Regions from separate parts of the Homo sapiens genome. Here region 2 is linked to region 1. A link means that fine-mapping ties the variant in region 1 to the expression of a gene that starts in the linked region. Tissue or cell type: thyroid. Region 1 holds a variant in brackets; the other region holds the start of a gene. All regions are shown on one strand. Distances are from middle to middle.

What was found. PIP is the estimated chance that this variant, and not a neighbour inherited with it, causes the effect.
Region 2: it holds the start of USP48, and the variant in region 1 is fine-mapped to the expression of USP48 in thyroid (GTEx, PIP above 0.99).

What each region holds. Positions count from the first base shown.
Region 1 is chr1:21,799,404-21,807,723 of GRCh38, forward strand. No RefSeq gene overlaps it. Among named protein-coding and RNA genes, the nearest start is that of LDLRAD2, 8.7 kb to the right of the region's middle. The variant AT/A (reference allele first, on the strand shown) is at 4,809.
Region 2 is chr1:21,777,883-21,786,181 of GRCh38, forward strand. It overlaps USP48 (ubiquitin specific peptidase 48), which reads right to left and starts at 5,267. Exons shown (of 27, transcript NM_032236.8): 1 at 4,942-5,267. The coding sequence starts at 5,075. RefSeq lists enhancers at 3,951-4,000, 4,313-5,084, 4,561-4,660, 5,085-5,855, 5,601-5,650 and silencers at 5,031-5,390, 7,778-7,952.

The DNA of each region.
Region 1 (8,320 bases):
TTAGCTACCACCCATGGATCAGACTGGGATGTTCCTTCTGTAAGTTATGACTTATCGGCAATTGCATTGTTTTTTTTTTTAATATATTTTTTTGAGACGGAGTCTCCCTCTGTTGCTCAGGCTGGAGTGCAGTGGCATGATCTCGGCTCATTGCAACCTCTGCCTCCCAGGCTCAGGCGATTTTCCTGCCTTGGCCTCCTGAGTAGCTGGGATTACAGGTGCCCGCCACTACACCCATCTAATTTTTGTATTTTTAGTAGAGAAGTGGTTTCACCTTGTTGGCCAGGCGGGTCTTGAACTCCTGACCTCAGGTGATCTGCCCACCTCTGCCTCCCAAAGTGCTGGGATTACACGTGTGAGCCACCGTGACCAGCCTCATTGATTGTAATTCATTATACTGGGATGACTTTTCTGGCCCTCCACCTGCCAGGGTGTCACCTGTGATGAATTTAGGGCTGCTGCTGCTTTCTGCTTGATTCCTGTGGTATGAGTGAGGCATTCACATCCACGAACCACGCACATCACCTGTGCCCCAGTGCCAGCTCAGACAGGAGGAAGCTGCTGTCTCTAGGGGTGGTGGTCAAGGTGTTTCCTATTCTCTCTGCTCACAGAGCAAGTCTAGCAACAGCTAAGACACTACCTCCTCATGCACTTTTTTTTTTTTTTTTTTTTTGAGACAGGGTCTGCTGGCTCTGTCCCCCAGGTGTAAGTGCAATGGCGCAATCTCGGCTCACTGCAACCTCTGCCTCCCAGGCTCAAGCAATCCTCCCACCTCAGCCTCTTGAGTAGCTAGGACTACAGGTGCATGCCACCACACCTGGCTAATTTTTTTCTTTTTTCTTTTTTCAGACGGAGTCTCGCTCTGTTGCCCAGACTGGAGTGCAGTGGTGTGATCTCGGCTCCCTACCAGCTCCGCCTCCCAGGTTCACGCCATTCTCCTGCCTCAGCCTCCTGAATAGCTGGGACTACAGGCGTCTGCCACCACGCCCGGCTAATTTTTTGTATTTTTAGTAGAGATAGGGTTTCACCGTGTTAGCCAGGATGGTCTCGATCTCCTGACCTCGTGATCTGCCCACTTCGGCCTCCCAAAGTGCTAGAATTACAAGCGTGAGCCACTGCGCCTGGACTAATTTTTTTCTTTTTTTGTAGAGATGAGTTTTCACCACGTTGCCCAGGCTAGTCTCAAACTCCTGAGTTCAAGCAATCCACCCACCTCAGTATCTCAAAGTGCTGGGATTACAGAACTGAGCCATCGCACCTGGCCTCTCATGCACCTTTGATGTATCATTGGGACCCTGCATTGTCCTTTCCATTATGTTCCATTTCCATTCTAGGTGGGTAATACTTGGGCTACTCCCTTTGTCTGATCAGAACTGAGTCTAGCTCATGTTAGGATGAGTAGCTTTGTTCTTATTTTGGGGCTACCAATAGTTCCTCTGCATCCTGTAATGCAAGGATGTCACCAGTGCCCTTTTTCTCTGTGGGGCTAGTTTTATTTATTTATTTATTTATTTATTTCTGCTCTTATTGCCCAGGCTGGAGTGCAATGGTGTGGTCTTGGCTCACTGCAACCTCCACCTCCCCGGTTCAAGTGATTCTCCTGCCTCAGCCTCCTAAGTAGCTTGGATTACAGGCAACTGCCACCATGCCCAGCTAATTTTTGTATCTTTAATAGAGACGGCGTTTCACCATGTTGGCCAGGCCGTTGTCGAACTCTTGACCTCAAGTGATCCGCCTGCCTCGCCCTCCCAAAATGCTGGGATTACAGGTGTGAGCCACCACACATGGCCAGGGGCTAGTTTTCTGTATCAGAAATTTCTGTGTCCAGTAGACTGACAAAGAAATGATCCCATGCCTAACCTTCAAAATCTGACTCAGAGTGACCAATCAGCATGTTCATGAGTCATTGAAATCTTTGTTTACATTATTAGTATAGGTGCTCAGGGTAAAATGTCTTGCTACCCAATTCAGTTCATTGAAGGATATCTGATCCTCAAGGAAATTTGTGGATTTTTTTCCTGGTGACTTGATACATTGTAAAACAATATTCAGCTTAGTATAAGTTTTCTCTAATAGCCAAATAATCTCATTAATTGTAGAAGCTTTTTCTTTTTCTTTTCTTGAGACAGAGTCTCGATCTGTCACCCAGGCTGGAGTGCAGTGCTGCGATCTTGACTCATTGCAACCTCTGCCTCTTGGGTTCAAGAGATTCTCCTGCCTCAGCCTCCCAAGTAGCTAGGATTACAGGCGTGTGCCACCATGCCTGGCTAATTTGTGTATTTTTAGTAGAGACGGAGTTTCACCGTGTTGGTCAGGCCTGTCTCGAACTCCTGACCTCAGGTGATCCGCCCGCCTCGGCCTCCCAAAGTGCTGGGATTACAGGCGTGAGCCACCGCACCCAGCCTTTTTGGTAGAGACAGGGTCTCACCATGTTGCCTAGACTGGTCTCAAACTGGAACTCAAGTGATCCTCCTGCCTTGGCCTCCCAAAGTGCTGGGATTATGTGCATAAGCTACAGCACCTGACCCCTTTCTGTGATTTCTAATGTGTTAGATAAGAGCTCACTACATTTTTTGTACATTTATTTTATTTTGCACGTTATATTTGTATTTTTTGTTGTCTGTTGTCAATTTTCATTTTCCTTCTGGCCACACTAGTGACTTGTAGGGACGTAGGTTTGCCTAATGATGCCTTCTTTTTCTAATCTAGTAAAAATGTCTGTGATCTCATTATTTCATCCTTGAATTATGTATTGTGAGGGGATTAACAACCTCTGTCAGTATATGGCCGTCATGTAGTGGCCATACACCTGTAATCCCAGCACTTTGGGAGGCCAAGACTGGCGGATCATTTGAAGCCAGGAGTTTGAGACCAGCCTGGCCAACATGGTGAAACCCCATCTCTACTAAAAACACAAAAATAGCAGGGCATGGTGGCGCACGCCTGCAATCGCAGCTACTCGGGAGGCGGAGGAGGCAGAATTGCTTGAACCTGGGAGGCGGAGGCTGCAGTGAGCCAAGATCATGCCACTGCACTCCAGCCTGGGTGACAGAGTGAGACTCTGTCTCAAAAAACCCAAAAAACCAGAAAAATATGGGTAACAGAAAGGGAAGAACTCTCTCCCCACGTGACTCAATATTGAGAAAACTTACTTGACATGGTTGTCATGGATTTGGAAGTGAGATGGCCTCTGAGTTCAAATCCTGGCTGTGTCCCTTCCACTGTGGCTGAAGCTTAACACTTGATTGGCGTGTGTGGGATATGAGCCCAGTGTAGCCAGAAGAAGGTACTTTCTCCGGTTGCTGCATAAAAGCCAGCAAAGGCAGGCTGTCCCCGGCCTTCTAGGCTTTGTGTGTGATTCTCCTTCTGCCTGGAACACTGTTGCTTCCCCATTTCCTACTTACATAATATTTCTGCATTTAACATCTTTGTGCCTCAGCTTCTTCCTCTGCAAAATGGAGATGATAAGAGTACCCACTTTATGGCACTACTGTGAAGAATAAATCAGCTTAAATTAGCCGTCCGGGCAAGGTGCCTAAAGCCTATAATCCCAGCACTTTGGGAGGCCAAACTGGGAGGATCGCTTGAGCCTAGGAGTTCAAGGCCAGCCTGGGCAACGTGGCGAAACCCCATCTCTACAAAAAATACAAAAAAATTAGCCGGGTATGGTGGTGCATGCCTGTTGTCCCAGTTACTTGAGAGGCTGAGGTGGGAGGATCACCTGAACCCAGGAAGTAGAGGCTGCAGTGAGCTGTAATCGCGTCACAGCAATGTAGCCTGGGCAACAGAGCAAGACCCTGTCTCAAAAACCATATAAAGAGCTGACCAACATGGTGAAACTCCGTCTCTACTAAAAATACAAAAAAAAAATTAGCTGGGCATTGTGGTGCATGATTGTAATCCCAGCTACTTGGGAGCCTGAGGGAGAATTGCTTGAACCTGGGAGGTGGAGGTTGCAGTGAGCCGAGATCGTGCCACTGCACTCCAGCCCGGGCAGCAGAGTAAGACTCTGTCTAAAAAAAAAAAAATACACACACACACACACACACACACACACACACACACACACACACACACGTATATATGCCAATACATGAAAGCAATCTTTTTTTTCTTTTTTTGAGACGGAGTCTTGCTCTGTTGCCCAGGCTTGAGTGCAGTGGCGCGATCTCGGCTCAGTGCAAGCTCCGCCTCCCAGGTTCACGCCATTCTCCTGCCTCAGCCTCCCAAGTAGCTGGAACTACAGGTGCCCGCCACCATGCCTGGCTAATTTTTAGTATTTTTTTAGTAGAGACGGGGTTTCACCATGTTAGCCAGGATGGTCTCGATCTCCTGACCTCGTGATCCACCCGCCTTGGCCTCCCAAAGTGCTGGGATTACAAGCATGAGCCCTCGCGCCCAGCGGAAAAAGCCAAAGTCTTTACAATGACCTCTAGGGCTTGACATTATCTGACTCATCTTTTATCACTCTTTGCATCTCTGCCTTCGTTCCGCATGTATTGCTTGTGCCAGGCACATTCCTGCCTCAGGGCCTTTGCACTTGCTATTGCCTCTGCCTAGAATGTTCTTTCTCCAAATAACTGCATGACTGGTCCCCTGGCTTCTTTCTGGTCTCTACTCAAAAGGCCCCTCTCAGTGTGACATTCCCTGGCTATCCTATCAAAATGTCAACACCCCTCTGACATGCCTGCCAACCATGCTTTGTGTATTTTCTCCTTTGTATTTATTACTATTCCATATATCAAACATCTTACTCATTTATCCTCCACTGGAATGTAAGTTCTAAAACATTAGAAAAATTTTATTTT[AT/A]TTTTTTCAAGGTCTCGCTCTGTCACTCAGGCTGGAGTTCAGTGGCACAATCATAGCTCACTGCAGCCTTGAACTTCTGAGTTTAAGCAGTCCTCCTACCTTGCCCTTCCAAAGTGCTGGGATTATAGACATGAGCCGCAATGTCTGGCCCAGAAATTTTGTTTATTTTGTTCCCTGAAATTTCTTCAGTGCTTAAAACAGAGGTTAGTAAAATTTGAAAAATGAATGCATACGTATTTTTTTCCATTTTAATCTTCCCAGTAAGATACTTCAGTATTGTCTCCATTTTGTAGATTAAAAACCTGAGGCACAGAGCGATCAGGTCACTTGCCTAAGGGTCATACGGCTGGGAAGTGTGGCTCAGGGGAAGACTCTACCCCCTTACCTCAGATTTCTTATCATTTAAATGAGGTTTCCAAAAGAATGCCCTCTTTGCAGGGTCATTGAGACATATTGTGAAGATTATGTGTGATAGAGCATATGACAAACTTAAAGCCAGTGCTTGGCATGCTGTAATCACTCAAGAAGTAGTCTCTGGCTGAGTGAGGTGGCACATGCCTGTAATTCCAGCTACTTGGGAGGCTGAGGTGGGAAGATCAGCCAATCTTGGGAGGCAGAGGTTGTAGTGAGCTAAGATCGCACCACTGCACTACAGCCTGGTTAACAGAGTGAGACTCCATCTCAAAAACAAAACAAAACAAAACAAAACCAAAAAAAAAAACAGAAGTAGTCTCTAGAAATACGAAAGGATGTACGAGGTGTTTGTCCCTAGTCATTAAAGGTAGGAATATTTCAGCACAGAGGCTGATCAAGGGGCCAGGAAGTTACTAGTATTGTTTTTGTTTTTGTTTTTGAGACAGAGTCTCACTCTGTTGCCCAGGTTGGGGTAGAGTGGTGTGATCTCAGCTCACTGCAACCTCCACCTCCCGGGTTCAAGCAATTCTCTGCCTCAGCCTCCCGAGTAGCTGGGATTAAAGGCAACCACCACCACACCTGGCTAATTTTTGTATTTTTAGTAGAGACGGGGTTTCACCATCTTGGCCAGGCTGGTCTTGAACTCCTGACCTCGTGATCCACCCGCCTCGGCCTCCCAAAGTGCTGGGATTATAGGTGTGAGCCACCGCGCCCGGCCTTGTTTTGTTTTTGAGACAAAGTCTCCCTCTATTGCCCAGGCTGGAGTACAGTGGCATGATCTTGGCTCACTTGGCCTATTGTCGTTAATATTGTTGTCGTTTCTATCACTTTTCTGTGCAGCAGGGTTTAGCCATACCAACCTGTTCCCAGAATGAGCTCCTCTGTGACCATGACACATACTGGGTCCTCTGCTTGGAATGCATTTAGCGTAGTTTCTGCACGGAAACTCATATGCATCCTTCATGGCCCAACTCAAAAATCTCCTCTGGGAAGCTTCTCCTGACTTCCTGAGGTATGTCACATTCCTGTTATAGTTAGGGTTGCAATTTATTTATTGATTTGTTTTTTGTTTGTTTGTTTAATCTGAAGCCCCTACCAGTCTCTGAGGTCCTGGAGGGCCACATTTTGTGGGTCCTGAAGCAGAAACAATTTGGGGGCCCTCTTTAAAATATGAAATTATTAACACAAAATCAGGTTTGAGGCCAGATGTGCTGGCTCATGCCTGTAATCCCAACACTTTGGGAGGCTGAGACGGGTGGATCACCTGAGGTCAGGAGTTCGAGACCAGCCTGGCCAATATGGTGAAACCCCGTCTCTACAAAAAATACAAAAATTAACTGGGTGTGGTGATGTGCACCTGTAGTCCCAGCTACTTGGGAGGCTGAGACAGGAAAATTCGTTGAACCTGGGAGGCAGAGGCTGCAGTGAGCCGAGATTGTGCCACTACACTCCAGCCTGGGCAACAGAGCGAGATTCCATCTCAAAAAAAAAAAAAACAAAAACCTGGTTTGAAAGTGAATATTTATTTAGAATGAGAAAAAATCCCAACAAGTTTTGAAATGTAAAAAACGGACAAATAAGACAAAAAATAAAATCCAAAATAATAACAAACTTTTATTAACTGCTTAACATTCTTCTATAATACTTTTTTTTTTTTTTAAATAGAGACAGGGTCTCACAATGCTACCCAGACTGAGCTCAAACTCCTGGGCGCAAGCAATCCTCCCACCTCAACTTCCCAAAGCACTGAGATTGCAGGTGTGAGCCTCAGCACCTGGCCTTTTTTGCTTACTTTTTTTTTTTGGCTGCACACTTTTTGATTCTTTATGTGACAGCAACTGTATGGTATTTTCTCTATTTTTTTTTTTGCTAGATGGAGTCTTGCTCTGTTGCCCAGGGTGGAGTGCAGTGGAACGATCATAGCTCACTGCAGCCTTGAGCTCCTGGGCTCAAGCAACCTTCCTGCTGCAGCCTCCCAAGGAGCTGGGACTACAGATGCATACCACCACGCTTGGTTAATTTTTATGTTTTTTGTAGAGATGGGGTTTGGTCACTCTGTTGCCCAGGTTGGTCCCGAACTCCCAGCCTCAAGCGATCCTCCCACTTCCACCTCCCAAAGTGCTGGGATTACAAGCATGAACCACTGTGCCTGGGCAGTAGGATTGTTTTTGTTTTTGTTTTTGAGAGCGAGTCTTGCCCTGTTGCTCAGGCTGGAGTGCAATGGCGTGATCTCGGCTCACTGCAGCTTCCGTCTCCTGGGTTCAAACGATTCTCCTGCCTCAGCTTCCCGAGTTGCTGGGATTACAGGCACCTGCCACCACACCCAGATATTTTTTTTGTATTTTTAGTAGAGACAGGGTTTCATCGTGTTGGCCAGGCTGGTTTCAAACTCCTGACCTCGTGATCCGCTCGCCTTGGCCTCCCAAAGTGCTGGGATTATAGGTGTTAGCCACCGCGCCTGGCCAGGATATTTTTATAGCAGGACTGGAAAGATAATTCAGTCTTTCCTCTGCCATGATTGATCAAAATTAGTTTTTTTGTGTGTTTTTGTTTTTGTTTTTTTTTGTTTTTTGAGACGGAGTCTCGCTCTGTCGCCCAGGCTGGAGTGCAGTGGCGCGATCTTGGCTCACTGCAAGTTCTGCCTCCCAGGCTCACGCCATTCTCCTGCCTCAGCCTTCTGAGTAGCTGGGACTACAGGCGCCCGCCACCACACCTGGAGAATTTTTTTTATTTTTAGTGGAGACAGGGTTTCACCGTGTTAGCCAGGATGATCTCGATCTCCTGACCTCGTGATCCGCCCGCCTCGGCCTCTCATAGTACTGGGATTACAGGCGTGAGCCACTGTGCCCAGCCCAAAATTAGTTTTTTATTAGTGATAGTTTAGGAATTTTTTTCCTTCAGTTTTGTAATTCATTGTTGGTAAGATTATTTAACTCAATGATTGTTGTTAAATTTGGAGCAACTGCTATAAAATATCTTACTCATGTGAGCTGTGTATTTGGAAGGATTTTCCACACACTATTTCTGACTTCGTGCATTTCAAATTTTATTTCTTTTACAATGCCCTTGTACTCCTGGGGCTGGGCATCATATATTC
Region 2 (8,299 bases), 22 kb before region 1:
TTTGGGAGGCTGAGGTGGGCGTATCACAAGGTCAGGAGTTTGAGACCAGCCTGGCCAGCATAGTGAAACCCCGTCTCTACTAAATATACCAAAAAAAAAAAAAAAAAAAAATTAGCTAGGCGTGGCGGTGTGCGCCTGTAGTCCCAGCTACTCGGGAGGCTGAGGCAGGAGAATCGCTTGAACCTGGGAGGCGGAGGTTACAGTGAGCCGAGATGGCATCACTGCACTCCAGCCTGGGTGACAGAGTGAGACTCCGTCTGAAAAAAAAAAACAAAACAAAAACAAGACCAAAAAAAGATCACAACTCAATAACAAAAGGCAACTCAATTTAAAAGCACGCAAAGGATTTAAACAGACATTTCTCAAAAAAGATATATGAATGGCCAATAAGTACACAAAAAGATGTTTAACGTGATTAGTCATCAATGAAACACAAATCAAAACATAAGACACCACTTCGCACCCACTAGGATGGCTAAAAGAAAAAAGGCAGTAACAAGTATAGGGACATAGAGCAATTGGAATCCTCATATACTGCTTGTGAATATGTAAAATAGCGCAGCCACTCTGGAAAGTAACCTGACAATTCCTCAAAATATTAAACACAGACATGGTGGTTCGTGCCTACAGTCCCAGCTACCAGGGAAGCTGGGGCAGGAGTATTGATTGAGCCCAGGAGTTCAAGGACAGCCTACACAACATAGCAAGACCCTCATCTTAAAAAAAAAAAAAAAAAAAAAGCCAAAAAAAGGCCATGAACAGTTTCATTCATGCAATCCAAGCATTTCAGGGGGCCAAGGCAGGAGGATCACTTGAAGCAAGGAGTTCAAGACCAGCTTGGGCACCAAAGTGGGACTCCATTTCCACAAATTTTTTTTTTTTTTTGGAGACGGAGTCTCGTTCTGTCACCCAGGCTGGAGTGCAGTGGCGTATCTCAGCTCACTGCAAGCTCTGCCTCCCGGGTTCGTGCCATTCTCCTGCCTTTGCCTCCCGGGTTTATGCCATTCTCCTGCCCCAGCCTCCCGAGTAGCTGGGACTACAGGCATCCGCCACCATGCCCGGCTAATTTTTTGTATTTTTAGTAGAGACGGAGTTTCACCACGTTAGCCAGGATGGTCTCGATCTCCTGACCTCGTGATCCGCCAGCCTTGGCCTCCCACAGTGCTGAGGTTACAGGCGTGAGCCACCACGCCCAGCAAAAAAATTTTGTTTAATTAGCCTCGTGTTGTGGCATGTGCCTGTAGTGGCAGGAGGCTGAGGCGGGAGGATTGCTTGAGCCCAGGAGTTCAAGGCTGCAGTGAGCCATGATTGCACTGCAATACAGTCTGTGTTACAGAGTGAGACCTCATTAAAAATAAATAAATAAATAAAAGTTAAAAGAGCTGGGTGCGGTGGCTCAAGCCTGTAATCCCAGCACTTTGGGAGGCCGAGGTAGGTGGATCACCTGAGGTCAGGAGTTCAAGACCAGCCTGGCCAACTTGGCGAAACCCAGTCTCTACTAAAAAATACAAAAAATTAGCCGGGTGTGGTGGTGGGCGTCTGTAATCCCAGTGACTCAGAGGCTGAGGCACAAGAATCGCTTGAACCTAGGAGGCAGAGGTTGCAGTGAGCCGAGATGGCGCCACTGCACTCCAGCCTGGGCAACACAGAGAGACTCCGTCTCAAAAAAAAAATAATAATAATAATAAAAAGTTAAAAGTTACCACACAACCCAACAATCCCACTTCTTGCTCTATAACCAAGAGAAATAAAAATAAATGCCCACACAAAAACTACTACACTAATGTTCATAGCAACATTATAATAGCCAAAAAGTAGAAATGACCCAAATGTCTATCAGCAGATGAATGCAAATTAAAAATGTGGTAGATACAGAGATATGATGGCATATTATTGATCAATAAAAGGAAAAGAGGCAACGAGCACATGAAAAGACGCTGAACTCATTAGTCACTAGGAAAATGCAAATCAAAACTACAAAGATGCATCACTTCACACCCAAGTAGGAGGGCCTAACCAGAAAAACAGAAAATAGTACCTGTTTATGAGGATGATGAAGCATTTGAACCCTCATACATCACTGGTGGGAATGTAAATCGGTACAACCACTGTGGAAGTTTCGCGGTTCGGTTAAGTTAAACACAGAATTGACTGTGTATGACCCAGTAATTCCACTCCCAGGTAAAGAACTGAAATCAGATGTTCAGACCAAAACTTGTATGCAAATGTTCAGAGAAGTACTACTCAAAATAAGCAAAAGGTGGAAATAATCAAAATGTCCCTCAACTGATGAATAGATATATAAAATGTGGTATTATCCATAAAATGGAATACTACTCAGCCGTAAGGAATAAAGTAGTGACACATGCGCAGCAGGGATAACCCTTGGAAACATTACGTTAAGTGAAACCAGACACAAATGGCCACGTACTGTATAATTCCATTGCTATGAAATATTAATAGAGAAATCCAGAGACAGAAAGTAGATTAGCAGTTGCCAGGGGCTGGGCGAGGGGGGAAAATGGGAAGTGACTAACAGATGCTCAGTTTCCTTTTAGGATAATGAAAAGTTCTGGAACCAGACAGTGGTGATGGTTGTACAACACTATAAAGGTACTGAAACCCACCGAATTGTGCACTTTAAAATGGTAAACACTGTCATATGTATTTCCCAGGTATTTTTTTAATGAAATGAAGTGCTGAAACATGCTACAACATGGATGACCCTTAAATACATAAGTAAAGGAAATCAGTCACAAAAGTCCACGTATTTTAGGATTCCATTTATATGAAATGTCCAGAATAGGGAAATTTAGAGGCGGAACATACAGGGCATACAGAGCCAAGATAAGATAATTTTTTTTTTTTTTTTTTTTTTGAGACTGAGTCTCGCCCTGTTGCCCAAGCTGGAGTGCAGTGGCGTGATCTCGGCTCACCGCAACCTCCACCTCCCGGGTTCCAGGGTTCTCCTGCCTCAGCCACCCCAGTAGCTGGGATTACAGGCGCCCGCCACCACCCCCGGCTAATTTTTGTATTTTTAGTAGAGACGGGGTTTCACCATGCTGGCCAGGCTGGTCTCGAACTCCTGACCTCGTGATCCGCCCATCTCGGCCTCCCAAAGTGCTGGGATTACAGGCATGAGCCACCGCACCCGGCCTATTCTTTTTTCTTTTAAAATTTTTATTTTAAAAATTTATTTTTTTAAATTTATCCAGCGTCTCACGACGCTGTCTCGAAAAAAAAAAAAGTATCGGCCTGGCGGGCGGTGGCTCACGCCTGTAATGCCAGCACTTTGGGAGGCCAAGGCGGTCAAATTATCTGAGGTCAGGAGTTCGAGACCAGCCTGACCAACATGGAGAAACCCTGTCTCTACTAAAAATACAAAAAATAAAAATAATAAAAAAAAATTAGCCGGGCATGATGGTGCATGCCTGTAATCCCAGCTATTCAGGAGGCTGAGGCAGGAGAATCGCTTGAACCAAGGAGGCAGAGGTTGCAGTGAGCCGAGATCACGCCATTGCACTCTAGCCTGGGCAATAAGAGCGAAACACCGTCTCAATAAATAAATAAATATCAGAAATTGGCCCAGCATGGTGGCTCACGCCTGTAATCCCAGAAGAGGTGGGCAGATCGCTTGAGCCCAGAGCTCGAGACCAGCCTGGCCAACATGGCGAAAACCCGTCTCCACTAAAAATACAAAACTGAGTCGGGCGTGGTGGCCCGTGCCTCTAATCCCAGCTACTCCGGAGGCCGAGGTGGGAGGATCGCTTGAGCCTGGGAAACGGAGGTTGCAGTGAGCCGAGCTCGTGACACTGCACTCCAGCCTGTGTGACAGAGTGAGACCCTGTCTCAAAAACCACCAGAACTATTAGTAGTTTACATTATTTGGTTAGTCTGGAAACTAATTACGTTGAGAAACTGACTGAAGCTTGATTATTTCTATTATACACAGACTTCAAACATTCCAGAACTTACTGTTAAAGTCAGATTTACCCTCCTTGTGAGACAGACGCCCAGAGCTTGGACTTATTCGTTTGCTTTATAGAAACTCCCTAACTTATTTCACTTCTCATACTAGACTTTAAGCTCCAAAGCCAGAGACCATGACTTCCATTCCTTCCGGATCCCCCAGCGGAATGTAAAAACTCCAGAAAGCATTTCCTAAATGCCTGCCGAAAGACGGCTACTGAGCATGCCCGGCTTGGCCAAGTCAATTTCAACAACATTCTGAAACAAAAACTATAGTTCCCGCGTTACAAGGTGGAAAAAAGGGAATAAACGGGAGCAAAGCCTAAGGATTCAATCTATATGAGGGGGTTAAGGAAAGGTAAAGTTCAAGGGCGGCGCAGACGTGAAGGACAGCACTATCACAGCTTAAACTTGGTACTCGGTAAACTGGTGTCGAACCAGAACGACCAAAGAAAGGCTTAAAAAAAATACTAGATTAACGAGTGAGGGAAGGCCAACGGGGGTGCAGGGTATCGATGACGTAGGCTGACCACAGTTTTTTCTAAAGCTGCCCTCTACAAAAATAATACTAAGATGATCAGGCCTTCGGTGTCAACACCAACAAGATACACTGTGATGAAGCTCACTTCCAAAAAGTTCCTTTTTACAAACGAAAGAGCCGTGCTGTGGCCAAGATACCCCAACCATCAACGCTTGCTAAGCTCTCAGCTCCTGCCTTCATCTCCACCGCCATCTTCTGGATGGGAACCCAAACCTTCCTAAAGTGCTTTGGCCAGCATCACCTCCGCGCACAGCCCGGGAAGCCTGCGTTTCCCAGGTCGCGCAGACGGCGCAAAGGGGGAAACTCCACCTCGCTCGGCTCCGCGCCTCCCAAATGCACGCAAAGGGCTGCCGTCTTCCTTTCCCCTACCCCGCCCGGGCTTTCCAAGGTCCGGCGCGAGGAGCCCGCGAGGCGCGGTGCGCGGGCCTCACCTGCACACGCCGCGAATGCAGGGCTCCAGCCAGATGCGGTAAGCGGTCTCGATGTGCTCCTGCGACACCTCCTCGGGCCGCACCGTCTCCGCCCAGCGCCAGGCCGCCTTCTCCAGCTGCAGCCGCGGGGCCATGGCCTTGGCCCCAGGAACGCCTCCCGAGCCAGACCGCCGCAGCCGCCGCCGCGGTCTGCACCGCCGCCCCAATGGGCTTCGCCACCTGCCAGCAAGGAGGACCTGGCGCTCCTTCAGGCAGCTGGCCAGTCAATCACCTGTGCGCGCCACTGCCGCCGCGCCCGCCCGCGCCCGACCCGCACGACCGGCCGCAAAGCGCCGCCGTCGACACCCGACACACCCCGCGCCCGCGGACGTTAAAGGTGGACTCCCCGCCGCGCTGAGCGCATGCGCGTTCCCAGCAGCCTCTGCGCCTCCCGCGCCCCTAACCCGACGGGCTGAGGTAGAGGAAGCGTACGTCCGAGGCGGTCTTGCCACGTCCTCACTGGCACTTCTGGAAAAGCAGCGTCTCAGCCCCCGTTCAGGGCGGCGCACTACGTACCACTACTCTAACAAACCAGTGCCTCGAAAGCTATTTCTTGCCTCCGGTACTTCCCTTTTAACCATGAAGTTTTCACGCTAGAGGCTACTCAACGCACACACAGGCCCGCCCAGACTGTGGAGCGGGACCTGTTTAGAGTAGAAACCGAGTCGCCAAAGAAACCAGTGTTGGCTCTTTAGAGGGAGATTTAACTTGAGCCTAGACCGGTTCCGAACCCCTTTCCCGAGCCCTCCTGACGTCATGGGACCTTCCGGCCTTTTCCCGTGCTAGGGTGGGACTACGTGTCCCGGCATGCCCTGCGTCCTGCCACTGACTGTGAGGCATGCTGGGATTTGTAGTCTTCGAGGTGGGAGTGCTCAGTGCGCCGCAGACTGTGCGGGCGGGGGTCCGAGGTGCCAGGGTGGAGTTTCTCTGGTGCGCAAGGTCATGTTTGCTGTTGGCTCCCTTCTCAAGACTGTTACCTCTATGCCAGGATTTTCTAGTTCCTCTCTAGCTCCTGGTTTAAAACATTTCCTTTCTGCGACTCCTGCCCCAGGACATAAAGAGTAGCTTTATGAGAATTGTTTTGCAAACTGTAAAGAACTCTACTAAAGTGAGGATATTTAAGAATTTTGAATTTGAATTAGAGCTCTGCCAGAATCTAAGCGCTAACTTCTGACTCAGCTGCTTGCCTGCTGGAAAACCTTAGGCTGAATTCTTTAGATAAACATTCACTGGGCCGAGCACCGTGGCTCAAGGATCCAATCCCAGCACTTTGGGAGGCCGAGGTGGGCGGATCACCTGAGGTCAGGAGTTCGAGGCCAGCCTGACCAAAATGGAGAAACCCCGTCTCTACTAAAAATACAAAATTAGCAAGGCGCGGTCGCGCATGCCTGTAATCCCAGCTAGTCGGGAGGCAGAGGCAGGAGAATCGCTTGAACCCGGGAGGCGGAGGTTGTGGTTAGCCGAGATAACGCCATTGCACTCCAGCCTGGGCAACAAGAGTAAAACTCCGTCTCAAAAAAAACAAAAAAATTCGCTGAAGGCAGAAGAAAGTAAGATGTGGTCCCTGCCCTTGGAAGTGGGTTAGGGAGTGAGCGGTAGAAATACAAAGATCCCCATCCCAGTCTTGGGAGGCTTCGGGGTACTTGAGAAAAGGCTTCCCAGAAGTAATTCCGAAGCCCGCTTTTAACGGGTGAGTTGGACTTATCCAGGATAGAAGAAAGACACCATTCCAGAAAAAAAGAAACCACAAGGAGCAAAGGCACAGAAGAGAAAAGCTTGGCGTGAGAGGGCCACAATTTCTGAGACAGGGACAGGTGAGAGTTATGGCTTGAAAGGAAGACCTTGCCGCCGGGCGCGGTGGCTCACGCCTGTAATCCCAGCACTTTGGGAGGCCAAGGCGGGCGGATCACGAGATCAGGAGATCGAGACCATCCTGGCTAACACGGTGAAACCCCCTCTCTACTAAAAATACAAAAAAAATAGCCGGGCGTAGTGGCGGGCGCCTGTAGTCCCAGCTACTCTGGAGGCTGAGGCAGGAGAAGGGCGGGAACCCAGGAGGCGGAGCTTACAGTGAGCGGAGATCGCGCCACTGCCCTCCGGCCTGGGCGACTGAGCGAGACTCTGTCTCCAAAAAAAAAACAAAAACAAAACAAAACAACAATAACAACAACAATAAAACAACAATAACAACAAAAAAAAAAACAAAAAAAGGAAGACCTTTATTCAAAGTACCCACTGAAGATATACAGCTGTTGAGTGCTATAATGGAGATTTGCATTTTGTATAGTGAGGCAGAGAAGACTTTTTTTTTTCCTGAGACGGAGTTTTGCTCTTGTTGCCCAGGCTGGAGTGCAATGGTGTGGTCTGGGCTCACTGCAACCTCCGCCTCCTGGGTTCAAGCGATTCTCCTGCCTCAACCTCCCAAGTAGCTAGGATTACAGGCTTTTGCCACCACGCCCGCCTAATTTTTTTGTATTTTTTAGTAGAGACGGGGTTTCACTATGTTGGTCAGGCTGGTCTCGAACTCCGGACTTCAGGTGATCCGCCCACCTCGGCCTCTCAAAGTGCTGGGATTACAGGTGTGAGCTACCGCGCCTGGCCTCCTCCCCTTTTTAGACCATATAGGGTAACTTCCTGACTTTGCCATGGCATTTGTAACCTGTCATGCACTGGTGGGCATGTCTTTTAGCATGCTAATGTATAATAATTAGCGTATAATAATTAGCATATAATAAGCAGTGAGGACGACCAGAGGTCAGTCTCATGGCCATCTTGGTTTTGGTGGGTTTTAACCAGCTTCTTTACTGCATTCTGTTTTCTCAGCAATGTCTTTATGACCTGTATCTTGTGTAGACCTCCTATCTCATCCTGTGTCTAAGAATGCCTTAGGCCAGGCATGGTGGCTCATGCCTGTAATCCCAGCACTTTAGGAGGCCAAGGTGGGCGGATCACGAGGTCAGGAGTTCGAGATGAGCCTGGCCAACATAGTGAAACCCTGGGTCTACTAAAAATACAAAAATTAGCCAGGCATGGTGGCGGGCACCTGTAATCCCAGCTACTCAGGAGGCTGAGGCAGGACAATTGCTTGAACAGGAGGCGGAGGTTACAGTGAGCCAAGATCGTGGCATTGCACTCCATCCCAGGCGACGGTGGGAAACTCAGGCAAAAAAAATGTCTTCACCTCCTGGGAATGCAGCCCAGTAGGTCTCAGCCTTATTTTACCCAGCCCCCATTCAAGATAGAGTCACTCTGGTTCAAACGCCTTGGACAGAATGAGGACTTGCTACAGCTTGATGATGTTGACCTGACCGGTATATCT